Linked DNA regions of Homo sapiens. The protein of the gene in region 1 interacts with the protein of each later gene in a pairwise test. Each region holds a gene or a part of one and is shown on either strand. Other genes may lie near its edges.

What was found.
Region 2: the proteins of PRDM4 (region 1) and MSRB3 interact in binary tests that used the Homo sapiens proteins (3 or more experiments, as listed by UniProt).

Annotation. Positions count from the first base shown.
Region 1 is NC_000012.12:107,732,345-107,737,165, forward strand, and holds the end of PRDM4 (PR domain zinc finger protein 4), read right to left. Parts: intron 4,604-4,821; exon of another isoform or gene 4,211-4,603; intron 2,179-4,210; coding exon 1,866-2,178; 3' UTR 527-1,865; downstream 1-526. UniProt on the Homo sapiens protein: May function as a transcription factor involved in cell differentiation.
Region 2 is NC_000012.12:65,463,683-65,467,461, reverse strand, and holds the end of MSRB3 (methionine-R-sulfoxide reductase B3 isoform 2 precursor), read right to left. Parts: 3' UTR 555-3,779; downstream 1-554. UniProt on the Homo sapiens protein: Catalyzes the reduction of free and protein-bound methionine sulfoxide to methionine. Isoform 2 is essential for hearing.

The DNA of each region.
Region 1 (4,821 bases):
GTAACTATCTTGGGCATCATTTCAGTCTTGGGAATGAAGGAAGTGAACCCAGTGTGTGCTACTGAGATAAAGGAAGAAAGGGAGCTTAGAGTCCCAGTACCAGTGGTTTCCTGGGTATGGGGGAACCAGCCAGCTGGATGCCTTTGGCAAAATGCTGAGTTTGAAGCTGCCCTAGGAACCAGAGCTGCCCTGAGGGAGGCGTCACGACCCAGTGTCAGCAGCCAACCCTAACCATCCGCAACACATCCCCCAACCCTCCACTGCAGACCTGCCACATTTCTCCAAGGAGGTAACAGAGTAAAGGCATACCTTAGGCAGGAACAGGGCAGAAGAGGGTTGGAAGCACAGGAAGCAGTTTGTCTTAAGTACTAACAGCAGAAACAATAAGAATATGATCTCAAAAGCTAAAATACTCTAGAAATGCTCTCTTCTTCTAACCTCAGAAAGATTCAAATTGTACTTGACTTTCCCTAGAAGACTCACTCATCTCCTTCCTCCATGAAATGAGACTACCAGAGGAATCCTGTATTTTAAAAAAGTTTAATTTTAATCCTTCCTAGAGGAATACAGATTTGAATGAAATACATTCATTCCATAAATACATTAGCAGCAAAACCTTCCCACCAGAGTCCTCTACTCCAGCCCAGAGGTTGTGCCTTGAGCAGGAGAGCATGTTCCATCAATCCTGTCAACTTAAGGGTGGGTCTGCTTCTGAGAAACGCTGGATGTGCATGGGAGACACAATGACCAGGTGCATGGGTGACTTAACTAAGCTGGGACCCTGAAAACAGGCCCATGTGGTCACTATTCAGCCTTCTTTACCTTCCAAAAATCCTTTGGCATCTTCCATGCTTCTCTGATGAGGTTCCTCAGCACTGAGACAACTGGGAAGACCTAACTTTGCACATGCATTAAATAATGTTATTTTGAGTTGGCAATGTTTTAACACTTTTCATAAGGTAAATGAAACATAAAAGATTATTCCCTTCCTTCCCTTCCTCAGGTGAGTCCACATGTACTCATCAGGAGACAATCCAGCAGGCATTATTTGGGCTCTCTGTATCTCCAGGCCCCCTTTGTCTGAATGGCTGGATGTTTACTGGAGACAGGGAGCCATGTCTAAACCTACAAAGATCTCCACGTTACAATAACCAGGTGACTTGCTCAGGCTTCCATCAAAGCTAATTTCTTGGGCAGAGGCCAGGCATCTCTCCTCTTGTTCTCTCCATCACTGACTACTGACTGACTGCTGCTTTTTTATTTGCCCTCCAGGCACCTGCCGAAACTTTGGAAAACAAGATCTACCCTAAACTTCCAAGTGGCCAGGAGCAGTTAAGGCAGGTCCTGCTTTAAACTTACTAGCTGCCAAGTAGCACACTTATGCTGCTGTGTCCCAATCCATTCTGTGGTGAGTATAAGTCACAAGAGTCTGCATAAAACACTATCAGCAATCAGGATGGCTATGGGGCAAGGACCGTTTAGAATGTTACCAAGTCACAGGACCAGCAGGAAAATGGAATAATGGAAGAATGTGAAATAAATCTGATTTGTTTGAGCAGAAGGCAGCTTTGATTCAGGCATAAATGCATCTCCCAGATTATCATGTAAATAAAGACCTCAGAAGTTGACACTTCCCTCCCAGTCCACCACTTAAAACAGGACACATGCTCAGTTTTCCCAATCTGTTTTAAAGTGTTTTCATTAGGATACTCTTCTGTAAGTGCTTTATTCATTCCCAGTCTGTTTTGATTACTGGCTGAAAATAAATCAGGAACCATTTTATATAAAAACCATTATAGTAGATAACTGGTTATGTGTATTTTTCCATTTGCATTTTCATCCAAAATTGCTTGTTTCTTTTCCTTTTATTTATGTGCAGAAAGAGACTCATCCGCTGAATACACAGCACTGTTAATCCTACAGTCTTCTGTCCCCACAGAGTCTGCTAGATCTTCCTCTTCTGAGTCATCCTCTTCTTCCTCCTCTGGTGCTGACGAACTGGAGGTGGGCCCTTTGCAGGTTTTCAGGTGGCGGGTGAGATGGTATTTGGTTAGATAAGCCTTTGTACATTTTTCACAGACATAATCCCGTTTTCCTTCATGAGAATTGAGATGCTTCTTTAAGTGATTTGTTCTCAAGAACAGCTTATCACACTTGGGACACTTGATCTGGCGTTCTCTAAGAGGAACACAAGAAAAAACATTTGATTTGGGGTTACAAATAACAACTGAGGCAACACTTATTCTTCATAGCCGCAGGCCTTTGTCAGAGCAGCTCTATCCTTCTGAATCAGGCTTTTGCATAGGTGATATACAGAAGACTCATAAAACATGTATAGTTTAAAACAGTGTAGGCTCATTTTTCCTGTTTTAGAATACTATGTAAATTCTCAAATTCTATGTAAATTCTATATGTATTTCTTTTGTCTTGCTGCATTCTCTCAGTATGATGCTCATAAAATTCATTCAAGCTGCTGTATCAGTTGTTTGTTCCCTTCCACTGCTGTATACTATTTACAAATATACAAATACACCACAACTTATCTATGGTACTGGATTTGTCTCTAGCTAATGAATGTTTTGGTGGTTTCCAGTTTTTTATTATCACAAGCAAAAGTGCTAGAACGTTTTTAAATTTTTTTAAATTTTTATTATTATTTTTTAGAGACAGGGTCCCACCATGTTGCCCAGACTGGAGTGCAATGGCTATTCACAGGTGTGATCATCATGCACTACAGCCTTGAACTCCTGGGCTCAAGTGATCTGTCCGCCTCAGCCTCCCAAGTACCTGGGACTACAGGTGCATGCCACTGTACCTGGCATTTGAACATTTTTATACTTGTATGGTGCTCTGCAATACATGTTTCTCTAGGGCACATACCCAAGAACTATATAGCTAAATCAAAGGATATGCACATCTTCAACTTTACAAGATAATGACAAACGGTTTTCCAATGTAGTTGTTTCAATATACACATCCATCATTGACGGTTCTGGTTGTCCCATATTCTCAACTGGAAGACTCAAATTTGAAAATGTCTGCCAATTAGCCAGTACATAATGGTATCTCATTACACCGTTATTTGTATTCCCTGGATGCCACTTTTATGGAATTACCATTTTTCTGTCCTTTTCTTAGACTAGTGGTTCTCAAGTAGGGGCGACTGCCTCTATGGGGACATTTGGCAATGTCTGGAGTCCTTTCTGATTGTTATACTGGGGAGGGGTGGTATAATTAGTATCTAGTAGGAAAAGGCCAAGGATGCTGCTAACCATTCTACAATGCACAGGGCAGCCCCACAACAAAAAATTAACCCGGTCAAAATGTCAATAATGTCAAGGTTTGAGTAACCCTGGCCTAGACATTTCAGAGCTGAAAAGAACCTTAGAGATCACACAGACCAGGAATTTTTTAGCTTTTTTTTTTTTTTTGAGTAGCTGAACCCCATGTCTTTATGAAAGCCCAATATGAAACAGTTAAAGCAGGTTATTAATAAAATCCTGGAAGGAGTGAGAGGGTGCAGTCGGGCGTTCTGAAGCCTGGCTTCCTTAGCATTTCTCTCATCCTCTTCTAGCAACAGATGGCACTGAAGAACCCTTAGAATTCCCTGGAGCAGTTTTAAAACCACCAATCTAATCCAACCTCTTAATTCTGCAGATGGGAAACATCATGTGCATAAAAACTACTAAGGAACTTGCCCAAGGCCACAACAAAACCCCTACCAAAAGTCTGACTTTTCATCTTCTACTCTGATGGTTTTTAGATGTTTATTCAACACATATTTACTGTGTCTAATTATGCCAGGCACTGTTCTAGATGCTAGGGCTATAGGATGTGGGTAAACTAAGTCCCTGCTTTCATGAAGCTTACATTCTAAGTGGACAGATTATAGCATAAACAAATGTGTAACGTGGTATCATATAGCAATAAAGACTACGAAAACACACGAAGCCAGGTAAAAGTGAAGGGGTCCTATTTTAGATAAGATAGTCAAGGAAGGCCCTCCTGAGGAGATAACATTTGAGCAGAAACCTGAATGGAGGGAAGAAGACATGCAGGCATCTGGAGGGAGAAGTTTCTAAGGCAGAGGCCCTGAGACTGGATGTGCTTAGTATGCTCAAGGAGTAGCAAGGGGAGGGTCAGAGTGGCCAAAGCAGAATATGAAAAGTAAGAAAAGGTGAAGGGAGAGGTAGCCAAGTACTATTACATCATAAAGGGCCTTCTGACTGCTGTAAAAAGCTTTTAACACAAATACGATGGAAAGCCACCAGAGATGTATGAGTGGAGACAGGCACAATCTGACTTATATTTGAAATGGATTGCTCTGGCACTGCGGACAGAAAACTGTGTGTATGTGTGTTCATCTGTGTTGCGGAGTAGATGAGGAGAAACAGCAAGTAGTGGCAGGGAGATCAACTGGGAGGCTACTGAAGCCATCCATAGAAGAAAAGCTGGTGGTCTGGACAAGGTGTTAGTTGAATGAAGGAAGGAAGGAAAAACTGAGTTGAGAATTACTTCAAGGTGTTTGGCTTGACCATTGAGGTGAATAATGGTGGTGCCATTTAATGAGCTGCTCAGCACTGGAGGAAATCAAATTCATGGGGTAATACTGGGTTGAGTTTTGGACACATAAGATTTAAGTTGCCTAGCGAACATCCAGCATCAGAGCCGCTGAGTGATGGTGAGGTGTATGAGGGTGGAGACATAAATCATATGACGGTATCTAAAGCCATGAGACAAGATGACCTGGGGAGTAAACATCACTGTTCTTCTGCTCACTTCCTCTTTCTTACAGGAAGGGCAAAGCCAGGTTCTGTCACC
Region 2 (3,779 bases), about 42 Mb from region 1:
CAACTCAACATTTCAACAACAAATAATACAATACCAAAACTTATCTGTAGAGATGGCTTTTATCAGTGAAATCATCTGTAAGCAGTGGAAAGCTCCTAATATACTTCCACAGAGAACAACCCTCAATGATAGTGTAAGTTTCCTGTCAAATTTTTTAACAGAAGCCAAGGCATCAGCGTGGTATCATTCCTGCATTTTTACCCACAGAGTTTTATGGTGGAACTCCCAAATCCATATTTTAAGCAAGAAACATACACAAGCTGCTGAAGATTTTGCTGAGGTGAGGTGAAGGTTGAGTAATTCTGCAAATGTTTCCCTTTCCTCCAGTCTTTCAGATCCCTGGAGGCCTCTCCCAGGGCCTGTGGTGTGGAGAGTTGGACTTGACCCTACTGTAAGAGACCCAACTTCCAAAGACTGCATCAGATGAAAGGCTCTCCATATAGACTACAGACTTGTCAGCTGGTTAAGGAGGCAAACAGAACAGTCTGCTACAAACTCCAGTCCATGTATCTGTGCTGAAAATAAAAGGAGTCTTCAGGAATCAAAGAAGAAAATATTTTTATAAAGAAATTTTATTGCATAATTCTTGTATACAATAAACATAGGAAAAGGGTTTTTAATGAAAATTCATGTCATTTTTCAAAAGTGTTGAACTGTCTGGAGAAAAATTATTACAAAGCTATCTAAGGCAAAAATAATATTTAACCATCTAAACAAAAGATAATCCCCTTTACCATTTGTTTTGTATTTAAAGCAAGACATTTTAAACACAAGTAATACGGAGAAGTTTTCAAATTGCTACGTCATTTGCATTAAGAATTTAAATGCATCTAAGAAGTGAAGAGTTTAAACACATGGGAATGTTCTCTAGTAACAGATATTGCTGCTTTCTTCAGATCCATTCTGCTTGAATGTAAGGCTATACTTTTTGCACACCAACAGAATTCTGCATCTTCTAATGGTACAGTAAGAGCTGGAGTGCAGAGAGGGAAAGTCCCATGCACTTCCTATGTTAAATGGCATAACTCCCACAGATCACATACACCTTGCCATATTGACTCAGTTCATTGCACTCCATATCCTGCAAAAATAAATCTAGTGCTTGACAGCTGACATTATTGCTCACTGACGTTTTAGTAATATATTTCTTTCACATAAGACAGAAATATACTGAAATTTGATACCACTTAAACCCAAAAGCAATCTGGAATTAAACCACATGCATACACCCCACTTTTTTTCAATAGATGTTGCATTTTTCTTAAAGTCGATCCTGGAAAATGTGGTAGAAGAAAAACTGGCTTTCCTTGAAACAAAGACTAAGGATTAGAAAAAGAGGGGCTTTTTTTTGAGTGAAATGTTAAGCCCTACGATATAAATGAAGGAACAATGACAATCCAGTCTCTGTGGAGAGGGAAGAGGCCTCTCACTGATCCTCCTTGTCTACCTCAACACTGTGGCCCGCGTCCCACGGACCCCAGGGGAGGCTATCCTACAGAGCTGGAGCAGCCGAGAGGTGCTGTGTGTGCCTCTGAAGGATGGGCTGGAGGCTGTGGCAAAGCCCTGAGAGACCTATTTCTTTGGCCACCCCAACGTGGAATCCTGGGGTCACTGGGAAATACTAGGGCTTTCTCTGTGAGATTGGGAAAGACTTCTAGGATGGTCTGGACGCTGATGGCTGAGGTCTGGTCTTAAATTTTACACGTCATTTCTAGAGAGACGTGAAGCCTACGAATTCCAGAGTGAACCCAGGGCCTGGGGTGAAATGTCTTGGAACCTGAGGGAACATCTGGATGCTCAGATAGAAACCTCTTATCTGAGCATCCAGATAAGACCAGAGCTCATCTGGAATCAAGTGTACATGACTATAAAGAGTCCACCGGGATGTCAGGCTTCTTAGAGAGGTGCTTGTAGAGAGAGACATGTAGGAATGTGGACATGGCCACACTGACGCTGTTTGTCACAGATTTTCATTCTAATTTCTTGTTGTTTCTTTAAAATTGTCAAATGTCCCTCTTTCTTTTTTTTCTCTTAGTGCTTACAAGGAAAGCTGTCAGTCTTCATAAACTTTCAAAGAGTTACAAAAATACGTATTTTTTAAACTACAATTCAAGATTAGCATCCAAACCTACAAACATGATGTACATTCGTCACACACCATACAACCTTCACACCTGGCTACAGCAATGTTGACTTACATCACCATTGTTTATACTTGTGAAAACTTTATTGTGCACAGTGACATCCATTCCGCCAGACTTAATGTTATAAAGCAGCTGAGCAGAGCTTCTCAAAGTAAAACTAGCCGTGTTGCTACAAAGGGAAATTCTGGCTCTTGGCCCAACTGTTTCCATACCAATCAGCTAAGTCAGCCTCCTCTCTGCTTCTTTCCATTTCAAATGCCTGGGCTTTGGCCTTTGAGGCAATTAGAACCAGATCAGTTTAATTTTACAACACTGATCTCAACTGTATAGCAATATAGTGAATTTGCCCTGAGAGTATCAATACATTTTACAAATATTATGAGTCCCAGTTTATGCATGAAGAAATAGGCACAGAGAGGCTACATGGCTTGTCCTTTGTCACACAGAAGATTATGTTGAGTATGAAACTTGAGCTTCCGTTTTAGCTTTCCATGTGAATGCCCATGTCTCTCCAGAGGTCACCTGGAGCTCTGTGCACAAGGGCCACCCCACTTGGATTCTGTTTGTTACTTGTACTGCCCTGTCAGTTTTTCTGCCCAGCACTGAATTTTTCAGTACCCAAGACTTCATCCTTGATCTTCTCTGCTCTCTCTCATTCCTGCTGCCTTGATGAAGTGTGTTGCCCCTAATATTTTATTTTACACAGTGGAATTTGTGCCCTTCCAGCTGCAGCTGCTTTTAGGTGTGGAGAGAAGGACTTATAAAAAGGCGATGGACAGGCGTTCTTCTTTTTGAATTTTAGACCAAGTGGGGCTCAATATTTTACAGTTGTCTTACATTTGAATGCTGCTTTCTTTTTCTTTTCTTTTTTGACAGGATCTCACTCTGTTCAGGCTGGAGTGCAGTGGTATGAGCTCAGCTCACTGCAACCTCCGCCTCCCAAGTTCAAGCGATTCTCCTGACTGAGCCTCAGGAGTAGCTGGGACTACATGCATGCGCCACCATGCCCAGCTAGTTCTTATATTGTTATTATTATTATTTTTTGAGATGGAGTGTCACATTGTCATGTAGGCTGGAGTGCAGTGGCATGATCTCGGCTAACTGCAAGCTCCGCCTTCCGGGTTCACGCCATTCTCCTGCCTCAGCCTCCTGAGTAGCTGGGACTACAGGTGCCCACCACCACGCCTGGCTAATTTTTCGTATTTTTAGTAGAGACGGGGTTTCACCATGTTAGCCAGGATGGTCTCCATCTCCTGACCTCGTGATCCACCCGCCTTGGCCTCCCAAAGTGCTGGGATCACAGGCGTGAGCCATTGCACTGGGCCTCCAATGCTTTCGATGGAAAATAAAATAAAATAAAGGCCTAACAGTGTGGTAATGTTTACTTCTCTGCCACAACACTCAGTATGCCCCTTTGGATCTGGCAACAATTTAACATAAGGAAAGACTTTAGACCTTCACACCCTTTCAGTGAGAAAAAAAAAAATGACCTTAGCTCAAACTTTCCACAAAGCTGAACAGTCTCATTAAAACATCACTCCAACCTTATCTTAGGTGGGTCTGTGCAAAGGCCTCAAGGCCATGTGTCTTGCAGGTCTCCATGCCCTGCACTGCCCAGCTCTGGTCTCTACACTG